2 separate regions of the Homo sapiens genome follow, and region 1 is linked to region 2. Evidence: fine-mapped expression QTL. Tissue or cell type: whole blood. Region 2 holds a variant in brackets; the other region holds the start of a gene. All regions are shown on one strand. Distances are from middle to middle.

Region 1 (8,105 bases), 270 kb after region 2:
TGTCACATGCCCTCTTCCCAGATCTTCGGGCAGCAGAATTACTCATCAGTGCTGGAAGCCTGCCCCCCTCCCCACTCCCCGCGCCTTGCTGTGGTGACCCCCACCCCAACCGAGTCCCCACAGCTGGGCTTGCTGTCTGCCCTGTGGTGAGTGGAAGGAATTCAGCATGAACTCTGCTCACTCAGCAGCCAGGCCTGAGAAGCACCGGACTGTGGAAAATCACATATGTTTTTCAAGTTGTTGAAAACCAAGGAAATTGTTCTGCCAGTTGTGAGGGTGGCTAGACACTGTCTGGGAGACCTCAGGTCCCATGGCTCTGGGAGCCATCCCATCTTGTGGGCCCAAACAGGCTAACCCCACTGGTAATATCCAGGCACTTGGGCGGCAGAGAAGGGGGAGTTTCTAGGAGCCTCCCCCAAGAGGGAAGAACAAAAAGGAAGGAGCCTAGCCTGGTCCTTTCCCCTTTGGTCCCAGGAGGCAGATCCAGGACTCAAGGGGAGATATGGAGGGGCTGGCATCTGTGATCCCAGTAGCCTGCTGGCCAGATCCCAGGCCTCCCAGACCTTCTATTTATCCCCCTCCCCCAGATACACATGCTGGTGCTGGACAGCTGGGCTGTGGCGGAAGTTTACATACAAAGGGTTTGCTGGGCCATCTCGGTACACACAGCTTCACTTCCTTCTGAGGCACAACCCGTGTCTGAGCTGCTGCCATGGGGGTCCTGGGGGCCACAGAGGCCATGGGGCAGGTTGGGAGGGTCTGCTCCCAGCCTCCCAGACCCTGCCACTCCTGCCTGTCCCCAGGCCCTGATGACCTCTTATCCTTCTGTGCCCTGCAGATCCCCACAGTCAGAACTCAGGCACACTGGGCCTGCTGGCAGGTGAGTTTCCACCTCTGACCAGGTTGAGGCACCAGGCAGCTCTGGAGGCTCAGGAGCTATAGCTTGGGTCCCAGTGGGAGGAGGCTGGCCTGTCCCCCTCCTCAGCTGGCACTAACAGGCCCCTGACCCAACCTCAACTTCTCTCTTGGGGTCTCAGCCCTCATGGCAGGGTTGATGGCCTCAGAGCTACATAGGACCTACTCACTGGGCCATGCTCCCTGTCTCCCTGTTCCCTGCAGGTCAGTTTCGCCAGCTTCCACCCTTGGACAGTTCTGGCTCTCTCAACAACTCTCCTTCCCATTCCAGCAGCAGCAAGGGACAGGGGGCACCCTCCCCAGCGCAGGCCCCACCCTCCCCAGCCCAGTCCTGCCGCAGTGGCTGTCCCTTGGGGTAGGGAAATGCCAAAGCAGTCCCTGCCACATCCATGTGGGAAGCTGAAAGTGGATCACCAGAGTGTCTACCAGCCCCCCACTGTAGCCCAGGAGAACACTTGGATGCAGGTGCAGACCCTGCTAAGTGGCAGGGGTAAGGGACCCTGAAAGCCACTAGGTGCTCTTGGCTACAAGCCTCCCATCCCCCTGACTGGCTTCACTCTGGCAGCAGAGGGGAGAAGTCCCCTCACCGGCCCCGTGGCAGAGCCTGGGCACAGGGCTAAAGGACTTTTTGGTGCAGGTCTTCAAGTGGAGTGGGAGTCCCAGCCCCACCACCCAAAGGGAGGCACATCAGCCTGGCATGGAGGGCAGCTGCCTCCCATCCACCTGCCCACACCCTTGGTGTCAGAGGGCCCCCAACATCATGGCCCTCCTTGTGGCCCAGCTCTCCATGAGAGCTTTTGCACATGTTTTTGTTGGTGACTCGCTGTGACTGAAGAAAAGCCTCCTTCTGTTCCTTTTTTGTTTTCTTATGGCTTCTATTTTCCCTGGCAGAGGATGTTGGACCCAAATCCAATCCATGTGTGAGTTGTTCCCAGGGAAGTGACGTGCCACGCTGCTTCACCCCAGCCTTGGGCCGCCGGGCTTGACATGCTCAACTGGGGCAACGGAGCAAATTCCCAGAACAAGTTTTGAGAAAGATGATTCAGAGCTTTGCAGAGGATGAGGAAAGGGGAGAGCTTGCGGATCCTTGCTGCCACCAGGACTGGCCTGGGGGCACGTGGCAGGCAGAGGCAGGCTCAGGTGCACAGGGAGCCTGGGTGTTGGGGCTCAGGGTCTGCTCTGAGCGCCCCAGTGGGCACAGCTCAGGTTGATCTCTGAGGGCAAATGATGAGAGCTAAAAGGCAGCAGTGTGAGTGCCAAGAATGTGTGCTAGGCACAGCACATGCATGATCCTGTATGAACGACAAGGAGAACAGGGACACAGGTGGACGGCACTGAGGCTACCTGCCGAGATGTGGTGCCTGGGAGGTAGAGCCAGAACCTGACACAGTCCCACTGCTTTTTCAAGGAGATGCAGTGAGAAAGCAAAGGCAGGGTCTTGGCAGGACCAGGTGTGAGAGGAGGCAAGGCCTCCTTGTGGTCCTGCTCCCAGGGGGTGGCATGTATCCCAGGCCCAGCAGCCTCCACTGTGGCCTCCCCGGCTGCTGCCTGCTCCAACTCACTCGGGGCTGCTCTGGGGACCCAGGTGCTTCCTGACCCACTTTTCCTCTTTCCTTTTGACCCCAGGTCCAAACTCTGCCCTGTCAATCATCCCAGGGGCTCCTAGGCTTCCCTACCTGACTACTTCACTGGGGCCAAACCCCGCAGACAATCGTGGCTTAGGGCTGTCTGCCTCTGCACTTGGCCCATGGACTACCTGTGAGCTTTCTCTTGTGTCCTCATTCCTTTAAGGGGGAATGTCCTCGGAGCTCTGTCCTTAGCTCCCCATTCCTCCAGTATGAGACAGGGACTAGGCTTGAGTCACGGGGGACTGTGCTGTGTCACGCCCTGCCATACTAATGGGACCACTCTGCCTGTTGATGGCCGTTGTAGGGCAGCCAACATTTGCCCTGGAGAAGCCTTATGGCAAACACCAGGCACCAAGGTGCACATCCCTGATGGATCCTGGGATCAGTTGACACTCAATCCACCTGCCTTCTGGGTCCTCTGGGCCCTCTGGGTCCATGTGGCAGCTGGAGGTATGGTAGACACTTTTTAAAAAATGAGTTCTGGTAAGAAGAAGGTGATAAATGGCTATTTGTCCACGTTGGGACCCGGAGGGGAGGGATGGCATGCCCTTACATGGGACTCCTACCCCCAGCGGGGCAGCTGGCCACTCTGAGGGCAGTTTTGCACCTGCCTCCTGGCTGGAAAGTGAGTTCCCACTGTGCTGTCCCTCCCTGGGGCCCAGCACGGGGCCCGGCCCCACACCGACCTGAAGAGGTTGGTAGGATGACTGAATGAATTGACGCTGGGATGCAGCAGGGCCCATGGGCAGAGGCTCCAGAGCCTGGGAAGGATGGGGTGGCCTTTCTGTGGCCCTCCGAATTGAGAGAGGTCTCAGAGGCCTGACACCACGGCTTTCCGTCCAGGGTTCCTGGTCACCCGCGGAGGGCTCAGAGCCCCGGTGGACTCGGGGTCCCGCCTTAAGGGGGGTGCCTAGGGCAGAAGGAGGAGGGATGTCGGCCCCCTCAGACCCGCACCCCAGGCCCTCCCCACCACCTTTCCTTCCCTCAGGCCCTCTGTCTTCCCAGTCGCCCCGCCCCCTGCCCCTCTGTCCTAGGCGCAAGTCTCCGGGCTTGGGACGCTCGCCGCCAGCGCCCGCCCGCCTGCCCCGCCCCTAGCCCCCCGCCCCCCGCCCCCCGCCCCCCCGCAGCCCCTCCGTCCACTCTCGGCTCCTCCTTCTCTTCCTCCTCCTCCTCCCCGGGGGTGGGGAGCCGGCTCCGGAAGCCCCGGCGCCCCCGCCCCGGGCCCCGCCAGCGCTTTGGAGACGGCTATCCGCGCGGGAGTGCGCCACGCGGGGCCGGAGCGCCTATTAGCCGCCAGGACCTCGGAGCGCCCCGACCACCCCTGAGCCCCTCTGGCTTCGGAGCCCCCCAGCACCCCTTCCCGGGTCCCCTCGCCCACCCTAATCCACTCTCCCTCCCTTTCCCGGATTCCCTCGCTCACCCCATCCTCTCTCCCGCCCCTTCCTGGATTCCCTCACCCGTCTCGATCCCCTCTCCGCCCTTTCCCAGAGACCCAGAGCCCCTGACCCCCCGCGCCCTCCCCGGAGCCCCCCGCGCGTGCCGCGGCCATGGCGGCCGTGCGCGGGGCGCCCCTGCTCAGCTGCCTCCTGGCGTTGCTGGCCCTGTGCCCTGGAGGGCGCCCGCAGACGGTGCTGACCGACGACGAGATCGAGGAGTTCCTCGAGGGCTTCCTGTCAGAGCTAGAACCTGAGCCCCGGGAGGACGACGTGGAGGCCCCGCCGCCTCCCGAGCCCACCCCGCGGGTCCGAAAAGCCCAGGCGGGGGGCAAGCCAGGGAAGCGGCCAGGGACGGCCGCAGAAGGTAAGAGCCCAGGGCAGGGCGGGGGTGTGGGGGGCTGGCATCTCAGGTGGGAACAGGGGGATTCGGTAGGGTCTGGCCACTCCCCAGTCTGCTAGGGGAGGAATGGCTGGCTTACTAATGCGCACGCGAGCCCAGATGCCTGGAGGGACCCTGTGCTAGGCCGAGGTCAGCGCTGGCGTGGAGGCACATCCAGCACCCGGGCGGCAGGGCCGCTTTTGGGGGCCGGTGGCTCTAGGGTTGGTGCTGTGGTTGTACGGGTCGCTTATCCCCATTCCTCCAGTACGCGACAGGTACTAGGCTTGAGCCACAGGGGACTGTGCTGTGTCACCCCCTGCCATACTAATGGGACCACTCTCCCTGTTGGTGGCACAGCTTCACGTCGTCCCTCCCTCCTGCCTTTGCCCTCCTACTCCAGGAGGTCTCACGTAGGTGAGAGAGTTTCAGGTGGTGGTGAGCACAGGGCTTCAGGTGGTGGTGAGCAATGGGTGGTCCTACATTAGTACAGGAAATTAGATGAGGTGATGCATCACTGAAGCATTTAACCCACGGCCTCTTGCATAATCAGTTGTCAGTAAATCTTAGCTGTTTTCATCGTGGCCCTCTGGAAGGTGGCAGAGGGTCTTGTGATCCCTGTCTCCCAGGAGATTCCAAGGCACCATCCAACATTCCTGATGTCAGCAGCCCCTCCCCTGCCACCCCAGCTCTAGATCTTTCCTGGCTGCTTCCCACACCCTGGGCTGCCTGTGCCCCTCCTGCCTCTGGCTCTCCTTCCAGGCTTGCTCTCCTGGCTCTGGGGCACCGCTCTAGCAGCCCTGCGTCCCCTGGCTGTCTGCATTTGGTAGCTTTCCTGTGTTTCTGCCAAACTTCCCTCATGCTCCCCACCTCTCATCAGGTTCTCAACAGCACTTGCAGCTCCTGCTTAGGGTCCTGGGAGGATTCCCATGGGGAATCCTCACAACCAGTCCCTGCTCCCTCTCCCAGACTCTGAAATGAGTGTGCAGCCACAAGCTCCCTACCTGTCTTTTCTGTCCTCTGTGTGATCCCTGAACCCCCCAGGACTCCCTATCCTTCCAATCAATTCCAAACCCCTTACTTCTCGAAAGGAGACCACTTCCTCTTCTTTGGGCTTCAATACTCAACCAAGTGTCCCTTTTCTTTGAAGCTTTTCTTGCCCCGTAGGAGACCAGGGGAAGGTCTTGGGCCCATGTCCCTTCCTTTGTATGGCAGTTGGCAGGGATGACCAGATGCTCCTCCAGGCCTGGATGGCTCAGTCACCTCTCTGCCCCTTCTGTGCCCAGAACAGAATAGTGGAGGAGTGGATAGTAAGGAACCCCTATTGAGGTTTTGGCAGGTGGGGGGATGAGGGCCTCCCCCTGGGAACTGGGAACCCTACGCTCAGTCTTTAGAGAGGTTGAGATTGGTGGTCACAGCCCCAGACTTGCAGACAGAAAATCTGGGTCCGGATCCCAGTTTGCCACTTGGGCAAATGACTTAACCTCTCAGTTTGCTGATCCGCACTGGGAACTGACAAGAGTCCCTGTGCCCAGGTTCTGGGCATCTAGAGAGGGGCCTCATGGGGGCACAGAGCTGGCTCTGTTCATTTGACACGAGTCTGCATCTTGGACAGTGCCTCCGGAAAAGACCAAAGACAAAGGGAAGAAAGGCAAGAAAGACAAAGGCCCCAAGGTGCCCAAGGAGTCCTTGGAGGGGTCCCCCAGGCCGCCCAAGAAGGGGAAGGAGAAGCCACCCAAGGCCACCAAGAAGCCCAAGGAGAAGCCACCTAAGGCCACCAAGAAGCCCAAGGAGAAGCCACCCAAGGCCACCAAGAAGCCCAAAGAGAAGCCACCCAAGGCCACCAAGAAGCCCCCGTCAGGGAAGAGGCCCCCCATTCTGGCTCCCTCAGAAACCCTGGAGTGGCCACTGCCCCCACCCCCCAGCCCTGGCCCCGAGGAGCTACCCCAGGAGGGAGGTTTGTGCCGGGCTCCTCTGGGGTGATGGGGCTCTGACTGCCTGCTCGGGTGGAGGCAGGGAGTGGGAGGCAGGTTTCTGGGGCCCTGCTTCCTATAGACCTTCAGCTCCCCACTGGATGGGAACCTCACTTTTGCTATAAATTTCACAATTTGATTGGTGGGCTCCCTCAGTGCTGTAGCCTCTTTTGGGTAGGGAGAGGGCTTGGCAGCCTTTTGGGTGGGACCTCTGTCCCTCAGGCCCCTGCCCAGATGTCCCTGGGCTCTGAGCCCATGGAGTTCCCTCCTGCCTTCTCCCGCTGGGGACAGCTTTGTGGTAGGGCCTCCAGCAGCACAGTAGGTTCCCCAGAAGGTGGGCCCAGCTCTCTGGCCCCATGAGATGCCAGCAGGATGCTGAAGGCCAGAGGAGCTCAGGCCTCCTTGGAGTGAGCTCGGCCTCAGGAGGGTGTCCACAGGCTCTGTGTGGGCTCTATGGGTGGCTGGTGGCCTGAGGCTCCCAAGGTGGTCAGAGCAGGCCTCCCGCCCACCTGCTTCTGGAACTCCTGTGTTGCAGGGGCGCCCCTCTCAAATAACTGGCAGAATCCAGGAGAGGAGACCCATGTGGAGGCACGGGAGCACCAGCCTGGTGAGTGGCCGTCATCCGCCTGGCCTTGGGGCCAGCTGCCCTGGCTGGTTGGACTGAGGGCTTCCCCAGAGTAGGCCTGGGTGGGGTTGTCAGGCAGCTACCAGCGCTTTCCCCTCAGAGCCGGAGGAGGAGACCGAGCAACCCACACTGGACTACAATGACCAGATCGAGAGGGAGGACTATGAGGACTGTGAGTAGGGTCCTGCCAGCCCCACCTGGGTCGGACCCCTGGCCTGGGGGATGTGCCAATGGGCCCATCCCAGCCTTGGGCCCCACTCTGAGCCAGCCTCCCCCTCAGTTGAGTACATTCGGCGCCAGAAGCAACCCAGGCCACCCCCAAGCAGAAGGAGGAGGCCCGAGCGGGTCTGGCCAGAGCCCCCTGAGGAGAAGGCCCCGGCCCCAGCCCCGGAGGAGAGGATTGGTAGGATGGGGGGCAGGAGAGGAGGTGCCATGGCCACGGCGCTCTGGCCCCCTCCTAACCTCCCCGCCTCCCCAGAGCCTCCTGTGAAGCCTCTGCTGCCCCCGCTGCCCCCTGACTATGGTGATGGTTACGTGATCCCCAACTACGATGACAGTGAGTACCCAGCACCCCAGAGTCTGAGGGACATAGGCAGGTGGGGGTCGGGGCTGGGGTGTGGTCAGGAGCCAGCTGGGGCAACTCACCCACCTTGCAACCCCACCTGTGCCCGTGGTTACCTCGCTGTCCCTGCTGTCCCTGCGTGCCCACCCCAGCCACTGCCCTGTCTCCTCTGCCCTCAGGCTGGTCTTTCCTTGGCCGCTTCCCTGGTTCCTGCTTGGCTGTGACCCCCACAGGGGTGTCCCTAGGCACACACTCTGCCCTGTCACCCATGTGGGTTCCAGCCCTCCCAGTCCTGTGCTCTAACTGGCTTCCCGCTGGCTCGTGGCCACTGCCCCACTCTCTTCAGGGAGCCCGAGGGCTTTTGCCTCCCTGTTGCTCATGCCCCTGCGTCCCTGGAGCCCTCAGGTTCCCTTTCCTCCTGGGTGGCAGCCCGTGCATCGCCATTTCCCTGCCCCCAGGTCCCCATCAGTGCCTCCAATGTCTCCCCATCTCACCCCCCAGCCCGCAACCCCAGGCACAGGTGCCAGTTGTCCCTCCAGGCCTTTCCCATGCCCTGGGCCTCGAGTCCTTTCCCCAGGCCAGATGCTCCT
Region 2 (8,105 bases):
GACACATGTTTAAATAATGTTTCAGATCTTATGGACAGCTGCAAACCATGTCATTCAGAATACACAATCTTCTCAAGTGCACATGGAACATTCTCCAAGATAGAGTATATATCAGGTCACAAAATAAGTCATAACAAATTAAGAAAACTGAAATCATAACAAGTATCTTTTCTGATCACAATGGTATAAAACTAGAAATCAATAATAGGAGTAATTTCAGAAAATTCACAAATATGTAGAATTTAAACAACATGCTCCTATACAACCAATGGGTCAAAGAATTATTTTTTTTTTTGAGATGGGGTCTCACTCCGTCACTCATACTGGAGTGCAGTGACATGATAGTGAGATGAGAAGTCTTCTTCCGATCAAAGGTTTTTCTTGATCGAAGAGTTTGTGGTCTCATGGGCTTCAAGGAATGAAGCTGTGGACCACAGTGGCAAGTGTTACAGCTCAATTAGAGAAACGTGTGGACCCAAAGAGTGTGTGGCAGCAAGATTTATTAAAGCGAAAGTGAATGTAAAGCAAAAGTGAAAGTAAAGCTTCCACGTGGTGGAAGGGGACCTGGAAGGGTTGCCCTGGCTTGAGTGTCTTATGCTTATATGCCCTTATGACTCCTTCCCTTTTCCTTTTCCTTTTCCTGTCCTATAGGATTAGCTTATTTTCTATCCGCTTGTGGGTTGGTGGGCCTGATTGGTTAAAAACATCACGCTGCAGCTAGAGCTTAAACTCCCTATATGATTGGTTGAAGTTTCAATCCCTTAGCTTGCAGCTATGACTCATTTTGGCTTAGGAGAAAGTCCCCTTTGATTGGTTGAAGTTTCAATCCCTTAGCTTGCAGCTATGACTCATTTTGGCTTAGGGAAAAGTCCCCTTAGGGAAGTCCCTATTGACCCAGGAAGTCCAGCCAACTTAGCCACTTAGTCGCTCAATAGCTCACCACAACCTCAACCTCCTGGGTCCAAGTGATCCCCCCACCTCAGCCTCCCCAGTAGCTTGGGACTACAGGCTCATACCACCACATCTGGCTTTTTGTATTTTTTGTAGAGAAGGGGTTTCACCATGTTGCCCAGGCTGGTCTCAAACTTCTGGGCTTAAGCAATCTGCCTGCCTTGGCCTCCCAAAGTGCTGGGATTACCGGTGTGTGCCACTGTGCCCAGCCTCAAAGAAGAAATTTAAAAATCTTTTGAGGCCGGGCACAGTGGCTCATGCCTGTAATCCCAGCAGTTTGGGAGGCCCAGGTGGGCGGGTCACCTGAGGTCAGGAGTTCAAGATGGCCAACATGGTAAAACACGGCCAACATGGTGAAACCCCATTTCTACTAAAAATACAAAAATTAGCCGGGTGCAGTGGCACACACTTGTAATCCCAGCTACTTGGGAGGCTGAGGCAGGAGAATCACTTGAACTGAGGAGGCAGAAGTTGCAGTGAGCCAAGATCGCACCACTGCACTCCAGCCTGGGTGACAGAGCAAGACCCTGTCTCCAAAACAAAAGAGGAATGTTGAAAAAAGAGTAATGTTTCTCAGCACGACAAAGACTATCTCTGACAAGCCCACAGCTAACATATTTAACTGTGAAAATATTTTTTCCTCTAAGATCAGGAACAAGACAAAGATGCCAACTCTCACCATGTCTATTCAATATAGTACTGGAAGTCCTAGCCACAACAATCAAGCAAGAAAAAGCATGACAGACATCCAGATAGGAAAGAAGTAGAAGAAAATTTTTAAATGCTACTTACAAAGTTTGTTGTGAACCGTGTAACTTCCATGTAAGGAAGTAATGAATGTAGTGAAGTGTTTGTAGTCATGTTAAACAGGCTTCTGAAATGTTATTTATATACTATTTTAAAAAGACGTTTCCACAAATGTTACTTATGCAGTGTGTTGTGAAAAGTATTACTTTGGTGAAGGAACGTGGTTACCATACTGAAATTGATGTAAAATATTGGTCCAAACTCCTGACATTCCCTGAAAAGATTTATGGGAATTTCTTTGCTCTCAAGAGATTAATAAGAAATGGAATGAAGCCGGGCACAGTGGCTCATGCCTGCAATCCCAGCACTTTGGGAGGCTGAGGTAGGCAGATCATTTGAGGTCAGGAGTTCAAGACCAGCCTGGCCAACATGGTGAAATCCCATCTCTGCTAAAGATACAAAAATTAGCCAGGCGTGGTGGCAGGCGCCTGTACTCCCAGCTACTCAGGAGGCTGAGAAAGGAGAATAGCCTGAATCCAGCCAGAAGATGTTGCAGTGAGCCAAGGTCAAACCACTGCACTCCAGCCTGGGCAACAGAGTGAGACTGTGTCTCAAAAAAACAAAAACAAAAAAATAAAAATAAAGAAAAAGAAATGGAATGAGATCCTAAACTCTAAAGCCATGCCAAAACAACCTTCCTTTGAGGATTCCAGCTGACTATATTATGGCTCATTCTCATGCACATTTTGAAACAGATGGGCAAATTCTATCAAGGAAAGTTCAGAGCTCAGATGGTCACTAAGAAAACTACAACCAACTATGCGGTTAACAAGCAAAATCTTCGAAGTTCTCTATCTCTCTATTTTATTTTTTTCCTGCCTACTTTCAATCTGCTGACTTTTCTGCTGGTGTTGAGATAAAAATCACTGCTTATGACATTTGAGCCAAGATTTTTTAAAAAAAGACTTAAAGCCATTTCAAATTAATGACTTTACAAATAACAGCTCCATGATAAACAACCTAGACACCTGAACTGTCCCTTTCGGAAATGTAAATTTAGGTTTGCCTGCCTAACAACTGTGTATGGTGACAAAACAGGTAATTGAAAGACTAATAGTCTAGAAGAATTACATAAATGTTTAGAAAAGTTAGGCTCTCAGATCAGACAGGTTAAAATCTTGAGCTCAGAGCCATAATGTAAGTATCAGTGTCTGGCATAAAAATTGCTTTATCTGCCACTCAAGGAGTTAGAAAAAAATTTTTAAATGCAGATAATCTTTTTCCCACCCACACTGGAGCAGGTGGTGAAGCAAAGTAGGTCTGAGGACTGGATTGCCATGTGGACACTGTGTTAATTTCTTTTTCTTTTCTTTTTCTTTCTTTCTTTTTTTTTTTTTCTGAGACTGAGTCTCACTCTGTCCCCCAGGCTAAAGTGCACTGGGTCCATCTCTGCTCACTGCAACCTCCACCTCCCAGGTTCCAGTGATTCTCCTGCCTCAGCCTCCTGAGTAGCTGGGATCACAGGCGTGTGCCACCACGCCCAGGTCATTTTTGTAATTCTTGTCGATTTCCTGATAAAGGGGAGAGTGATTGTTACCTGGGAGAGTGTCCCTGCTTTGGGTAAAAAAACAAGTATTTTGTGTGAAATTACAAATCTGGTACAGCAATAACCACTGGAGACTTTGATAGAAAGGACAGGGATTTGTATTGCTATTGCAAGTTTTCCATAAGAATGAAATTATCAAAAAGTAATTACTTTTATTTATTTATTTATTTAAGACAGTCTCCCTCTGTCGCCCAGGCTGCAATGCAAAGGTGCAATTTCACTGCAACCTCCACCTCTCAAGTTCATGAGATTCTCTTGCCTCCGCCTCCCGAGTAGCTGGGATTATAGGTACACATCACCATGCCCTGCTATTTTTGTATTTTTTGGTAGAGACGGGGTTTCACCATGTTGGCTAGGCTGATCTCGAACTCCTGGGTTCAAGTGATCCTCCTGCCTGGGCCTCTCAAAGTGCTGGGATTACAGGCGTGAGCCACCACGCCCAGCCTCAAAAAGTAATTACTTTTTTTTTTTTTGAGACGGAGTCTTGTTCTGT[C/T]GCCCAGGCTGGAGTGCAGTGGCTCAATCTCAGCTCACTGCAACTTCCGCCTCCTGGGTTTAAGCGATTCTCCTGCCTCAGCCTCCGGAGTAGCTGGGATTACAGGCACCTGCCCCTACACTCGGCTAATTTTTGTATTTTTAGTAGAGACGGGGTTTTACCATGTTGGCCAGGCTGGTCTTGAACTCCTGACCTCAGTAATTACTTTTTTAAACAACCATGTGGGCTGGGTTCGCTTGCGTGAGGAACGCTTGCATCCAGGAGCTGAAGACCAGCCTGGGCAACATAGACATCTTCTCTACAATAAAATTAAAAATTAGCCAGGCTTGGTGGTGCATGCCTGTAGTCCCAGCTACTCAGGAAGATGAAACGGGAGGATCCTTCAGCCCAGACGTTAAAGGCTGCAGTGAGCTATGATCGTGCCACTGCACTCCAGCCTGACAGATTGAGACTGTCTAAAAAATGAAAAATAAGGCTAAGGCATGGTGGTTCAGGCCTGTAATCCCAGCACTTTGGAAGGCTGAGGCGGGCGGATCACTTGAGGTCACGATTTGGAGCCTGGGCAACATAGGGAGCTCTGTCTCTAGAAAAAAAAAATCAATCAATCAATCAATCAACCACGTCAATACCGCGTCAGTAAAGCAGAGGTGACACCAAACTTCATTCCAGAGGCTAAGCCTGACCCAAATCCAGTTCAGCCAAAGCTAGGAAACCAGTCTCCCTGGTAAGCCTCTGAATGTGATGTTAGTATTAAAAGGCTGCTGCGTGGTATTATACTAGCAGCCACTGTGTCTTAGCTGTTGAGAAGGACCTCCTGTGTGGTGGAAACCGGGGTTTTTTATTTCCAAAATTCCACATGAAGCCCTTCCTCTACTGGGGGTTCTGAAGACCAACTGCTCCTCAGTAGTCAGGACTGTGACAGGAAGGATTTTACTCACCACTGACGCAGCCTCAAGTTGTCTCAAAGTGAGGCGGTGTCCCCTTAGATCTGTGTTGAGGAAAATGAGGTTCTCCTCCTCACTGCGGGCCCGGCGCTGGCGGCCGCAGTAGGAGCACGGAGGCGGTGGGGGCTTCTCAGGGGTCCGACAAGGCGGCTCGCACGCCCCCTGCTGGTCATCTGGGGCAGCGCGGGGCCCTCGGCGCTCGCTCACTGTTTAGCGGTGGCCGCGTGCCCCCTCCTGGCTGTCTGGTTGAATTAATTAAATTCAGATCGTTCAATGCCATGATTACGGACGTTCAAAATAAAATGGGGCCCACTATCCTGTGTCTTTCTCAAAAATGTTAAAGAAATTATTAATCGGAACGAAATAAATGTAGATCCAAACTTTACAAGTTTCACAAAAATTCATTCAAAATAGTCCATTGACTTAAATTTAAAATACAAAGCTGGCCGGGCGCGGTGGCTCACGCCTGTAATCCCAGCACTTTGGGAGGCTGAGGCGAGCGGATCACCTGAGGTCGGGAGTTCGAGACCAGCCTGACCAACATGGAGAAACCCCCGTCTCTACTAAAAATACAAAATTAGCCGGGCGTGGTGACGCATGCCTGTAATCCCAGCTACTCGGGAGGCTGAGGCAGGAGAATCGCTTGAACCTGGGAGGTGGAGGTTGCTGTGAGCCGAGATCGCGCCATTGCACTCCAGCCTGAGCAACAAGAGCGAAATTCCGTCTCAAAAAAATAATAATACAAGCTATAAAAATTCTAAAGTTACATTAAATCACATGGAAAGCAATGTCAAATGAGAACTACTTAGCCAGGCACAGTGGTTCACACCTTAATCCCAGCACCTTGAGCGGCTGAGGTGGGAGAACCGCTTGAGCCCAGGAGTTTGAGACCAGCCTAGACACCCCTGCACCCTGCAACCAACCCACCTCTACAAAAAATACAAAAATTAGGTTGCTCTGCCTGTGGAGTAGCCATTCTTTTGTTTCTTTACTTCTCTAATAAACTTGCTTTCACACACACACACACACACACACACACACACACACACACACCATAGCCGGGTGTGATGGCACACACTTATAGTCCCAGCTACTAGGGAGGCTGAAGTGGGAGGATCGCCTGAGCCCAGGAGGTCAAGGCTGCAGTAAGCCATGATTAGGCCACTGCACTCCCACCTTGGTGGAAGAGACCTTCTCTCAAAAAAGAGAGAGAGAGAAAGAGATACTAACCTTCTCTAGGTTATATTTGTATGGGTAAAATGTTATTGTTTCAGAAATTGTGTCAAGTCCCTGGAAATTTGTCAATGTCCTCCCTATCCAAGATATGTCCCAATGTAATGTTATAAGTCATAATTTCAGTTAGTATTTTAAATGTTGTATGCCACAGAAACAACCAAATTTCCTTGCATTATAATGAACTTTCATTAGATCTTAACCATAGCCAATTTATATCTTTTTTTTTTTTTTTTTTTGAGACGGAGCCTCACTCTGTCACCCAGGCTGCTGGAGTGCCGTGGCACAATCTGGGCTCACTGCAACCTCCACCTCTTGGGTTCAAGCGATTCTCTTGCCTCAGCCTCCCCAGTAGCTGGGACTACAGGAGCCTGCCACCACGCCTGGCTAATTTTTGTATTTTTAGTAGAGACGGGGTTTCACCATGTTGGCCAGGCTGGTCTCGAACTCCTGATCTCAAGCAAGCCCACCTGGGCCTCCCAAAGTGCTGGGATTACAAGCGTGAGCCACTGCCCCTGGCCTATTATTATTATTTTTAGAGACGGCATCTTGCTCTGTGTCCCAGGCTGTAGTACAGTGGCATCATCATAGCTCACTGCAGCCTGGAATTTTGGGGCTCAGGCAATCCTCCCGCCTCAGCCTCCCAAGTAGCTAGAAATACAGGCATATGCCACCACGCCAGGCTTTTTTTTTTTCTTTTTTGATGGATTAGAGATGGAGCCTCACTATGTTGTCCACACTGGTATCAAACTCTTGGGTTGAAGCATCCTTCCACCTCAGCTGCCTGAGTATCTGGGATTATACGCCACCACACCCAACTATTGCTGGTTCTTTAATGTTCTATTTTCTGGATTTAAAGAAACTTTTTCTCTTATGATAACTATATCCTATAACAATTTAGGAGACTATACTTTTATAAACAGAAATGAAATATTTATCTTTTTCTCCCTGCCTGATCCCTCCAGAATTTAGAAACTCTTATTGAATATTTTTAGTTTCATGGCAATATAGTTATTTGCATAAATTCAATAAGAATCTCTTTACCTTATAACAGGACATAATTGAGAAAATTGGTAATGTCACAAATGCATTGACTGTAATGTCCCAGTTGAGAATGATGTACATAGGATCAGATATGACCAGATAATTTTAAGGAACTAAGGTTGACTTTACAGAACCAATGTTCACCAAAACCTCTAGGTTACAAAACCCTCTGTGTGACAGGGAGCCTGATACCTGAATTACAGAGTTCCAAACCTAACAAGTGAGTAGAGATGGTCACTTCCTGAAAAGACCAGAAAACAGGATATTTTGGGGTCAAGAAGAGGAGAATTCACCCAAATCTATAGTTACTGCAGGTGAAGTCTGGTGGTAGATCCTTGGCTTGGCTTCCTAGCCTCAAGAGGGCTTTTAAAAGTCCAACCTGATAGTCCTTTTTTTTTTTTTTTTTTTTTAAATTGAGACAGGTTTTGCTTGTGGCCAGGCTGGTCGAACTCCCGGGCTCAAGAGATCCCCTGACCTTGGCTTCCCAAAGTGCTGGGATTACAGGTATGAGACACCATGCCCAGCCTCAACCTAACATTCCTTATGAAAAGTTCCAGGAAAGCCAACTTAAAAAGACCTATATGGTTACCATTCTTACTGAACTTATGTAAATAATCAGGCAAACTCTAAGTCTGATCTAGACTTATTTTGCAAACAAGAATAATTTTACTTTGATTATATTTCATCAAAAATAAGGGTGACTGTACAAAAAATTTTATGTTTCAATGGAAAACGATAACTCACTCTTGAGATTTTAGAATCTCACAGGATCAGATTCTAATCCTGTTCATTGTCTTTGAGCTATTTTCACCTCTTTGAAAACTGGATCCTGCCATTTGGTGCATTATGTCCTACAAAGATACTTGCAGGAAAAGAAGCCAAGTATTGTCCCCTGCTAATGTGTCTATTGTCAGTTAACTTACAGATCTTCAACCACTGGAACAAAGTTAGAAGAGGCAAGTTTTGCTCTCAAAAATGCATGGGCAAATTGGGATATATTCATGTAATAGAATACTAATCAGCAATATAAAGAAACAAATTAGGCTAGGCATGGTGGCTCACACCTGTAATCCCAACACTTTGGGAG

Evidence for each region. PIP is the estimated chance that this variant, and not a neighbour inherited with it, causes the effect.
Region 1: AEBP1 starts here. The variant in region 2 is fine-mapped to the expression of AEBP1 in whole blood (INTERVAL, PIP above 0.99).

What each region holds. Positions count from the first base shown.
Region 1 is chr7:44,100,576-44,108,680 of GRCh38, forward strand. AEBP1 (AE binding protein 1) reads left to right here and starts at 3,770. Exons shown (of 21, transcript NM_001129.5): 1 at 3,770-4,343; 2 at 5,971-6,312; 3 at 6,864-6,935; 4 at 7,054-7,125; 5 at 7,234-7,356; 6 at 7,432-7,509. The coding sequence starts at 4,091. RefSeq lists enhancers at 223-724, 725-1,224.
Region 2 is chr7:43,834,130-43,842,234 of GRCh38, forward strand. No RefSeq gene overlaps it. Among named protein-coding and RNA genes, the nearest start is that of MRPS24, 31 kb to the right of the region's middle. RefSeq lists enhancers at 437-556, 481-775, 687-1,056 and a silencer at 4,963-5,042. The variant C/T (reference allele first, on the strand shown) is at 3,798.